Homo sapiens: one gene and its partners. The protein of the gene in region 2 purifies or fractionates together with the protein of the main gene of each other region. This does not show direct contact. Each region holds a gene or a part of one and is shown on either strand. Other genes may lie near its edges. The genes, in order: OLFM4, PPA1 and MAPK13.

Region 1 (3,653 bases), on a different chromosome or scaffold from region 2:
TTCAGGAAAATGGCAATCATCCATGGAGTTAGAGAAGACACAAAAGAGCTTGGGGATGGGCCAGAAAGACTTCAGAGTGTGAACTTTACTAATTTAAGTAAATCATTCATATGAACTTTTCACATATATGAATCTGTAGCTTTGGGAATGCGTGGACAATGCTGACCACATGTCAGCTCCTCCTGGGAGGTGCAGTCTTGGGAGAGGCAGCCCAGCCTGCCTGGGAGCCTCCAGTCCCACATCTGGCACTTGGGGCACTTTCTGCATTTTTTTCTTCTTCTGGAAAATACAGTCATTTGCTGCATAACATTTTTGTCTATGACAGACTGCATATATGACAGTGGTCCCATGAGATTATAAATATCATATTTTTACTGTACCTTTTCTATGTTTAGATATATATGCACACACAAAAACTTACCATTGTATTATAATTGCCTACATTATTCAGTACAGTCACAGGCTGTACAGGTTTGTAGCCTGGCAATAGGCTATATCATATAGCCTGAGTGTGTAGTTGGCTACACCCTCTAGGTTTGTGTAAGTATACAATGACGTTCACCAATGTTAAAATCACCTAACGATGCATTTATCAGAACATGTCCCTGTCTTTAGCTGACCTATGGCTGTATTTTGATCTAGAAAAGTGGTTCTAAATGGAGGGAGGGCGGTAGTGGTGGTGATTTTGTCCTGGTTCTCATAACTGGGGGGTGGGCGAGTGCTATTGGCATCTAAAGACCAGGGACGCTGCTAAACATTCTATCAAGAATATGGGTCTAGCCTTGAGGAGACACGTCCTGTGTCAACATCTTTATCTCGAAGCTCCTCATCATGACAAGTCTGAGCACTAGATGGCTCATCTATGTTTTAGTTGAGCCTTTAAGCCACCAGCCTAACATTCACAGCTTCCATTTTATTTTGCTTGTTATGCACATACTATATCATTGATGAGGAATAAAATTTGTGTGAGCGTTGATTTGAGGGTGCCTGTTATTGTTCCTTATAATTAATGTGGTCTTGTAATAAATAAGGGTGTAGTGCTAGCAAGCTAAAGAATTAATCTGGTTCATGTTTCTGCCAGTCTCTCAAAACCTGTGATTATAACTATGGCCAGACTATTTGAAATAAGTACGTTTACTTTGCAACATACTACTATTTTCAATATATGTTTCAAAGTAAACGTAACAGGGTTCATTGAGCCTGGAGTGATTGTAAAGACATATAAAGTACTTTGGAGCTAGACCCAACTAGACTCAAATCTAACTTCAGTACTTAGTGGGCAAATCACTTAATTTCTTTAACCCTTAGTTTCCTGTAAACTGGGGGTAATGATACTGAGCTTACAAGATTATCATAAAGACTAGAGATAATGTACGTTAAGTGCCTAGTTAATGGAGGCCCTATGAATTATAGAAATTAATAGAGAAACAGTAATTTCAGCATTTTCCAATCTGACCTTTTAATTTATTATATTTCACTATACAAATACGGCTCAATCAATGTTATTTCTTTATGGGTTGCCTTAATGTCTCCTAGGCTGCCTCAACCTTCCCGTGCATGAGGATCTACTAGCAAATGTGTCATATTAAATAACTCATGCCAAAGACCATAAGCCTCCAGAGAAAGAGAAAATCCTGAGCTGCCTTTTGTGCCATCCCTTTCCTAAGTATAGTCACAAAAGGACATACCGTAAACAACAGAAAAGTATAAAATGCTTTCAGCATCTTATGCAGAGGCAGCTCCCTGTCTTCTCTGTGTACTGACAGACAATGAATCAATGTAAGGCAGTCAAAAACCTTTTCTACTGGCCTGTCCTAAACGGGCATTCTCCCAGGCCCCCGGATAAATGACAATTTTCAAGGCAACCTAGGGACAGCTGTAATAACTCACTTGGAAATTCGAAAGCCCTCAGCTAAAGGGATAACTTTGGATTTGAAGGCATTACTACTGCATCTCTTCCTGGGCCTACCTTGGAGGATGCTAACAGCATGGCCAAGAGGAAAGAGAGTTGAGATGATTTTGAAGACTCGAATTCTGACCTGGCTTAACCAGCCAAGAGAGGAATGACCTTGGGCAAGTCTCCTTACCTTTATGAACTGCAGTTTTACTGTCTCTAAAATGGGAGAGACAACACCTGGCCTATCTGCCTTAAAGGGTTACTTGAGAGGAGAGAATAGAACTGGAAGCATTTGAAAAAGCACAAACAAACTGCTACTATTATTGTTGTTATTATCACCTGTCACACTAAATCGATTATATAAATCCTAGCTAGCAGATAAACTTTTTTCTTAGGCCACAATCACAGTTTTTTTGGGATCAGAGCAGCCACCGACACATTCAGAACTAAAACTTTCCCACCTATTCTGCACTTCTTCCCTATCTGTCATTAGCAAAGCAGATGTTACCAGCCCCCCGTACAGTATTGGAATTAAATGTCCCATATTCACAAACCTGGCAAGCCACATACTCTCCCTGGAGCACATAAGGTTTCAAACTGCCTTTCACACTGCTGCCAGCAAAGACAACATGTAAATCAGTAGTTTCCACTATTTCAAAGCAAATGACTCTAACTGAAAAGATCTTTACCTAGGATTTTCCTCTACTTGTTATGTTTTTATGCATAACTTCTTATCTGTACTTGATTATGCTGGAATAAGGCTATGAATATTAATGGTTAGAATTTATAATTTAATGCTGTGCCTTTTCCACTGATTAATTCAAGGACATTATATTTCTTAAGCAGCTAGGTTTCTAGAGTAGTCAAACACATTTTCCTGGACACTCATTTAAACTTAGAATATTTATCTACCAATTCAGGCTGAAAGTAGGGTCTCAGCCTCATCATAATTTTTGTTTTAAAGGATAACTATGTTGGATGTTGAGGTGGCAAAGCTCAAATTTCTTAGGAAAACTTATTCTGAATCTTGCAGTAAAGCCAGAGCTCCTTGTAAATTAATGGAGTTGTATTAAATAATGCATAATGTGATTATAGACTAGCTTGGACTTCACCTGTGCAGAAAATAGGAACTTTTCTAATTGATTTTTAACTTGGGCTGAAAAGGTGGAAGGAGTCAAAACTAGAACACCAAGTCACATTGCTCCAGCCAGCCCAGAGAAAGGCAAACCCTTTAAGATAACTTCCTCTGGCTAAAGAAAAAAACAGTAATCAGAGTTCAAGTCAGTGTTTTTACCAAGGCTGAGAAACCTATTAGTCTTGATTCAAATTCCCAGGGAAGCCTTCAATTTTTGTCTAATATTGGACACATCAAATGTAATGTTCCTGCTGAGACAATAGAAGATAACCATCAAGAAAGAGATGGAGGGTGAGGATGGAAGTGGGGATAGTTAAAGGGTAAAAAATAAAAGTAGTTAGAAAGAATAAATAAGACCTAGTATTCAACAGCACAACAGGGTGACTATAGTCCATAATAATTTCATTGTACATTTTAAAATAAGTAAAAGAGTCTAATTGGATGGTTTGTAACACAAAAGATAAATGCTTGAGGGGATGGACACTCCATTTTCCATGATGTGATTATTACGCATTGCATGCCTGTCTCAGGGTATCTCATGTACCCCATTAATACATACACCTACTATACACCAAAAAAAAATAAGATTAAAAATAAAGAGACTACAACCTTGGATTTCAC
Region 2 (3,653 bases):
TCACTCGAACCTGAGAGGCAGAAGATGCAGTGAGCCAAGACTGCGCCACCGCACTCCAGCCCGGGCGACAGTGCAAGACTCCGTCTCAAAAAAAAAAAAAAAATTTCAATTAAAGTATAAGGTGAAACACTGTAATTAAGACAAACAAATGACTTTGTGCTTACCTAACAAGCTAGATGGGTCAGACCTATGTTCTACTATCTTATGGGTTGTTTCATAGTACGTTCCATTTAACAGACTTCATTGTTAATAAAAACAAACCATTTATCAACAGCAAAAAAATTAAACTGAATATTTAGTTAGTGTCTCAGCATTAAATTTTAAGTGCCACAGCACTGGCCTAGCCAAAATAGAATTAAATAGATGTCATTTACTCATTATAGATAAGATCCTAGTGATTCTTCAAATATCAAATAAGAACCTACTACATACTGACATTGTGCTGGGAATAAATTGGTAAACAACCCTTCTCAAAAGGTTGACTATTAGGCCAGACATGGTGGCTCACACCTGTAATCCCAGCACTTTGGGAGGCCAAGGCAGGCGGATCACAGGTCAGGAGATCGAGACCATCTGGCTAACACAGTGAACCCCGTCTCCACTAAACTGCAAAAAATTAGGTGGTGGACACCTGTAGTCCCAGCTACTTGGGAGGCTGAGGCAGGAGAATGGCGTGAACCTGGGAGACGGAGCTTTTGCAGTGAGCCGAGATCACGCCACTGCACTCCAGCCCGGGTGACAAAGCAAGACTCCATCTCAAAAAAAAATTTTTTTAATTAAAAAAAAAAAAGGTTGACTACTTAAGAAAACATGATCCTCTCATTACTTTACCACAAAGAGCTTGACCTGAAGAAGAGGGAATCAAAACTCTAAACATAAAGTCAGCAGCTATGACAGCTTGTTGTGTGCAGGTATTAAGTGCTTTATTTTTTGAAATAACCATACCACCTACATACTGTGAATAGCTCAGGGAGGCGATATGGACGTCTCAAGGAGAAAGAAAGGGAGGCAAGTTAGGTAAGCTAGGAATTGGCCATCTTGGGATTTGAACTCTGGTCTGTCTGGTGCCAAAAATCAGTGCTTTTGACTACTACCATACACTCTTTCTTGACTGAACAGACTTGCAACTCAGTCTGTAGAGAATTTATATAGCTTATAACCAGTCCAAAAAAGAAGAAATATTTCAGGAAAGAATAAACGTTCAAATCTGAATTTAAACATTGTAAATATTTAGTTTATCTTGAAAATAAGTTATTTAAGGAAGCATTCTGAGTTAATTATCCCTTCTTATGTTTTCAAAATCTACCATAGAAAAAACTCTCCACAGGTATTCAAACCTTTTTTACTAATAGCAGTAAATTAATATTTAGTAAGCTAAAAAGTACATTGTCAGCAGTTGCATGAAGACATACCTGAGGGATGGCACCATAGTTCCAGATATATCCTTTATACGGGAACAAATTCGCAACATAGCGAAGTTTTCCTTTTTTCACATCTTGTTTAATAGGGTTTAAAGGGTCCTTTGTAGCAATCTGAAATAAGAAAATTTCAAATCTTTGCATATTTGGATGTGAAATACTATTCAAATAAGGATCTGAGGAAATGAATTATGGTACCTATGTTCCCTAATTCCACTTTAATGATATATTTTATCCCTAACACTTTTATAATTGAACTAAGGTGTTTCCATAATCGGCCATTAAGTGAAAGGTTATGTGAGGTATAAAGGAACTATCAAGAAGGGAAAAAGAACATTTACTAATTCTAGAAAGCAAAGACTAAAATTAGCTGGAATAAATTCTAATGTTTGAGTAATAAAAATACCACAATTTTTATTAAAAGGGCAAAATAAATATTATCCAATTTTAGTTTTCCTTCACAGAATTTAAAATTATTCAAATACTTGGGTATTTATTACACAAAAAAAGTGATTACTGTTAAGAGTTTGTGATATAAAATATGTTATAAATATCCATAACAAAAAGGCAATGATGGTAGGTATCATCAGAAAGAAACTAACACCATGCAACTGAAATTCCAATGAGAGTATCTGTGGCTGGGGTGACTAAGGAGGGGTCAGTGAAGGGCTTACAGAGAGTAAGAGGAGAAAAAGTAATTCTAGGCTTTGGGAACATTGGAAGCAAAGATGTTGGGAAGAAAAGTTTGGGGCATATTTGTAAACAGTTGAGTTTAGCTGGAGCCCAAAGGGAAGACTAGTAGGCAATGGGAGATACAACTAGAAAATAGACTGGGACCAGACAGAGAAAAACCTTGACGTTCAGATGGTTCATCCTTGATCAAGTCAGTGTGACTAGATCAAAACCAATATCCTAAGTCTGACTCAAATGTAAGGTGAAATATTACCTCCATTTTTGCATTAGACCAGCGTGGTACTTCAACTACCATGTGAAACACATCCTGAAAAAACAAAGAGAAAGTGAGATGGTCACAGGAGCCAATTTGTTCTCTGAGGGAGCATGCACTATTTCTTCCAAAGTCAAACTGTTCATTGTATCAGATCTTTGAAGTCAATTGGATTTTCAACAAAATGCATCAAAAAAAGAGAATGATGGATGAAGAAATAATGCAATTATAGGAAAATATTCATTATAGAATCAAGGTGGTCAGTATATGATTGCTTACGGTATAGTTCTTCTTAATTTTTATTTACTTCTAAATTTTTTATAGAGGCAAGGTCTTACTGTGTTGCCCAGGCTGGTCTCAAACTCCTGGCCTCAAGTGATCCTCCTGCCTCCACCTCCCAAAGTGCTAGGATTACAGGTGTGAGCCATCTTGCCCAGCCAACTTACTATATAAATCTTTTAACTTTTCTGTATGCTTTAAGTGTTTCAGAATAAAAGCTGACAGTGGAAAGAATGTTCCTAGGAAGGAAACAGTTCTTAAATAAACGTAACAGAACCTGTATCTCTGAAGAAGACCATCTTCAAAACACTCTCCAAAGGCCAGTGTTATTTCCTTCAGAGACACTGCAATTACTCAAAATGTTTTTGGAGCTTCTATTTCAGAGACAGTTTATAAGACAAACCCCAAGTCAGACTAATTACTTGATCATACTTTAGTTTATAAGACGAACCCCACATCAGCCTAATTACTTGGTCATACTTTAGTTTTAGCATCAAACAAAACTCATCAGCTTCATTATCCACATTATTCTCCCAATTCGGCTGTTTTTAGAAATAAAGCCCCCCTGAAAAGGACTTTGACCTTGAAGATAAGAGAATATGCTTTAAAAATATTTTAATCAATGATAGTTCTACTGTAATTGGCTTATAGCCTTAAACTGACTACTATAAAATAGATGATATATTCAGGGAGTAAATTCCCAGATGTGCAGTTTAAAAACACAATGAAAAAACAAACCATACTTTGCCAACCCATTTTGCACACTGGAGTTAAATATGCCATAGGTTATTTAATTAAACTTGAGCTTTAATTATTCAGAATACTATTTTTTTTCACGGAATAGAACTTTAACTGCAGTTTTTCAGTTTTTAGCCTCTACAAAGGGCACAGATGAAGCTAAATCTGCAATTACTGTTTTCTGTCACCCAGGCTGGAGTGCAGTGGCACAATCTTGGCTCACTGCAACCTCTGCCTCCTGAGTTCAAGTGATTCTACTGTCTCAGCCTCCT
Region 3 (3,653 bases), on a different chromosome or scaffold from region 2:
TATGACTGAAATCCACTAAATGTCTCGAACTATGGTCTGATATCCATCAGAATCACTAGGCTTGGGTCAGGGCGAGAGGTCCTCATTCAAATGCACATTCTAAGGTCTCAACTGCAGACCTGCTGAGTCACAAGCCCTGGGGTGGGGCCCAGGAATCTGCATTTTAACAAGTCCCCTGGTGCACAAGGAAATTTGAGACCCACTGTGCCCGACAGCTTGTGCACATGGAAATTTGTTCTGCCAAAGTTTCTCAGATAAAAACAGAGAGGTTCTAGCCACTGTCAGGTCAAAGCTCTGGAGAGCTGTGCCATCTCCCAAAGGGAGCAGAACGGTTTGCCATCAAGCCAGGCAAGAGCCCATTTCTGCCTGTGCAGCTCGCAGTCTCCGAGCCTGCTGTTGTTTCATATCTTGATTGCTTATCACTCACCCAAAATAACCTGAATGCAATCGCACCAGCTGCAGCTCTCTCTGCAACTCCCTTAATTTAGCAGCCAAACACATTGGGTTCCTTCACAGAGCACAAGGCCTCAGCACGGGGCCCAGGAAGGGGCCCCTCCCTCCCAGCTGTCTGTAGTGAGTTGAATCATTTCCCCCTGGAATTCATGTCCACCTGGAACCTGAGAATGTGACTTTATTTGGAACTAGAGTATTTGCAGGTTTAATTAATAAGGATCAAGATAAGATCACACAGGATTAGGGTGGGCCCTAAATCCAATGACTGTTGTTAAAAGAGGAGAGAACAGAAGAGACAGAGACTGGAGTGATGCAGCAATAAGCTGGGGAATGCCACGGACTGCCCACTGCCGCCACAAGCTAAAAAGAGCCAAGGAAGGATTCTTCCCCAGAGCCTTCAAAGGGACCACAGCCCTGCCAACACCTCCATCCCAGATTTCCAGCCTCCAGAACTGTAAGGGAATCAAGTTCTGCTGTTTCAATCCACCAGGTTTGTGGTAATTCGTTAGAGCATCCCTAGGAAACCAACACAGCATCACTGCCATAGGCCCCCGGCCTGGCTCAGCGCCCACTCAGCCCCACTCTGGCGGGAAGGAAAGGGCCCCACCTGCAGGCGATTCTCCAGATGGGCAGTTTAACGTGGCCTGTTAGGATCAGAGCTAGTTTCTCCCAACCGACATCTTTGAATTCTGCATCTACTAGGCCCATTTCCCACATAAGGAGAAGGACCCTTCTGTCCTCTGCTTGAAAGGCTGTATTCCAAGAAGGGCTGAGTTTGGTAGTGACAAATACTGGTCCTTGGGCAGTGTCTGGCCGGCGGTGCCATGCAAGATGAGTCCCTACAGCTTCATGCCACTCCGGCGCCGTGAGTCCTTCCGGGCAATGGGGCTGAAGTTCACAATCTCCTTGTAGATGTGCTCTGAGAAAGGCAGCATGGTTTAAGGTGCGTAAAGAGGTGCTGTGGCGAGAAAGTCCACCCCCCTTCAGAGACAGCATGGAGAGCGAAGTCAGCTCAAGGAGAAAGAAGCACCCAGGAGACAATGCCCACCAAGAAGGAGGTGGCAGGTAGGGCTGGCAGAGGCCAGGCACAAAGATGGAGGAAGCAAGGAAGAGAGGCTGCAGGCGGAGGCGAGGAAGCCCGAGGCCCCAGCTCTTACGCTTCCATTCATCCACTGTGAGTTTCTCGTGTTCTAAGGAATCATCAAACGGCTGCTGGGCCTCCGTCTCTTCCTCAGGGTCCCGGAAGGGTTCAAAGAAGGGATGGGTGAGGGCCTGCGCGGCCGTCAGGCGCTTGTCCACGTCTAGCTCCAGCATCTTCTCCAGCAGGTCCGCAGCTGCAGGGGCAGAGCCAAGAGCCTCACACCAGGGGCTGGGAGAGCCCGCCCTCTGGGATACGCTGAGAGGCCCCTGGGGAGCGGGCTCTGAGACTCACCCTGGGGGCTGGCCCGTGGGAACAGCTGAGTGAAATCCTTCCTGGGGGTCTGTGGCAGGGACTGGATGTAGGATTTGGCCTGGAAGACAGAAAAGCATCAAACCCCTTAGGGCTCTGGCCTCAGCGTGTAGAGCAGGGATTTCAGAAAAGCCTCAGAGCAGGGCTGAAAGTTCAGGTCAGGGTCCACGGTGAGATTAAGACAAGAGTGCCTGCCAGGGTAGGAGGATGCTGTGGGAAGGTGCTGGTGAGCCTTCTTCCACAAAGGCCTGCAGCCCACTGGGCCCACGTCAGGCAAGCACACAGCCCAGGCCAGCCTAGGTCCCATTTACCACCCACCGCTTTGTCGTTCAGCTTCTGCACAAACTCCGTGCCAGGCACCCCGGTCACTTTCAGGATCTGGGTCAGCTGGTCCAGGTCTTGGTGGCAGGTTAAGGCTTAGCCTTGCTCTCCTGGTGGGTCTGAGACTGCCCTTCCTGCGACCCCACCATCACTTCACCCGGGCACCATGGCAACTGATCATCCAGGCTCCAGCCCTGCCTAACCACCTCCTGCTCTCAGGAGGAGGCTTATTCTTCAGGGCTCAGGGCTCTGGAGAGCTTTCCAACGTGCCAGGCTGAGGGGGGTCCCTACCCAACAAATGGATGTGGACTTCTCAGCCTTCATCCCAGTGACTCTTTTCTGTTTCCTCGTCTTCTCACCAAAGGCCTGCCCTGCACACACAGGTACTCAGTTAATGTGTGCCGTGCCAAAATGTATTTTCCACGTAGTGGTAGAATTTTTCATCATTTTGCTTATCTACATTTTTTTTTTTTTTTTTTTTTTGAGACAGGGTCTCACTCTGTCACTCAGGCTGGAGTGCAGTGGCACAGTCTTGGCTCACTGCAACCTCCACCTCCTGGGTTCAAGCGATTTTCCTGCCTCAGCCTCCCGAGTAGCTGGGATTACAGGCGTGAACCACACCCGGCTAATTTTTGTATTTTTTGGTAGAGATGGGGTTTGACCACGTTGGCCAGGCTGGTCTCGAACTCCTAATCTCAGGTGATCCGCCTGCCATGGCCTCCCAAAGTGCTGGGATTATAGGTGTGAGCCACCATGCCCACCCAACATTTTGTTTTTTTTTTTTTTTTTTTTGAGTTAGGGTCTCCCTCTGTCACCCAGGCTGGAGTACAGTGGCACAATCATAGCTCACTGCAGCCTCAACCTCCCAGGCTCAACCCTCCCACCTCAGCCTCTCAAGTAGCTGGGATTTTTCTTTTTCTTTTTTTTGAGACAGAGTCTTGCTCTGTCACCCAGGCTGGAGTGCAGTGGCGCGATCTCAGCTCACTGCAAGCTCCACCTCCTGGGTTCACGCCATTCTCCTGCCTCAGCCTCCTGAGTAGCTGGGACTACAGGCGCCTGCCACCACGCCTGGCTAATTTTTTGTATTTTTAGTAGATACGGGGTTTCCCCTTGTTAGCCAGGATGGTCTCGATCTCCTGACCTCATGATCTGCCCGCCTCAGCCTCCCAGAGTGCTGGGATTACAGACATGAGCCACTGCGCCAGGCCCATGTCTGGCTAATTTAAAAAACTTTTTTAGAGATGGGGTCTCCCTATGTTGCCACATCTGGTCTCAAACTCCTGGGCTCAAAGGATCCTTCCACCTCAGCCTCCCAAAGTGCTGGGATTACAGGCATGAACCACTGCGTCCAGCCTTATCTGCATTTACAAATTATTCTACAGGGAGTATGTATCACTCTCACATTAAGAAAAAAAAGACAGTTATTTAA

The links.
Region 1: the proteins of PPA1 (region 2) and OLFM4 purify together in Homo sapiens (co-immunoprecipitation; one large-scale study listed by IntAct). This does not show direct contact.
Region 3: the proteins of PPA1 (region 2) and MAPK13 purify together in Homo sapiens (co-immunoprecipitation; one large-scale study listed by IntAct). This does not show direct contact.

The regions. Positions count from the first base shown.
Region 1 is NC_000013.11:53,035,282-53,038,934, reverse strand, and holds part of OLFM4 (olfactomedin-4 precursor), read right to left. Parts: intron 1-3,653. UniProt on the Homo sapiens protein: May promote proliferation of pancreatic cancer cells by favoring the transition from the S to G2/M phase. In myeloid leukemic cell lines, inhibits cell growth and induces cell differentiation and apoptosis.
Region 2 is NC_000010.11:70,216,400-70,220,052, forward strand, and holds part of PPA1 (inorganic pyrophosphatase), read right to left. Parts: intron 2,419-3,653; coding exon 2,365-2,418; intron 1,533-2,364; coding exon 1,413-1,532; intron 1-1,412.
Region 3 is NC_000006.12:36,137,013-36,140,665, reverse strand, and holds part of MAPK13 (mitogen-activated protein kinase 13), read right to left. Parts: intron 2,302-3,653; coding exon 2,222-2,301; intron 1,965-2,221; coding exon 1,886-1,964; intron 1,788-1,885; coding exon 1,611-1,787; intron 1,373-1,610; coding exon 1,293-1,372; 3' UTR 1-1,292. UniProt on the Homo sapiens protein: Serine/threonine kinase which acts as an essential component of the MAP kinase signal transduction pathway.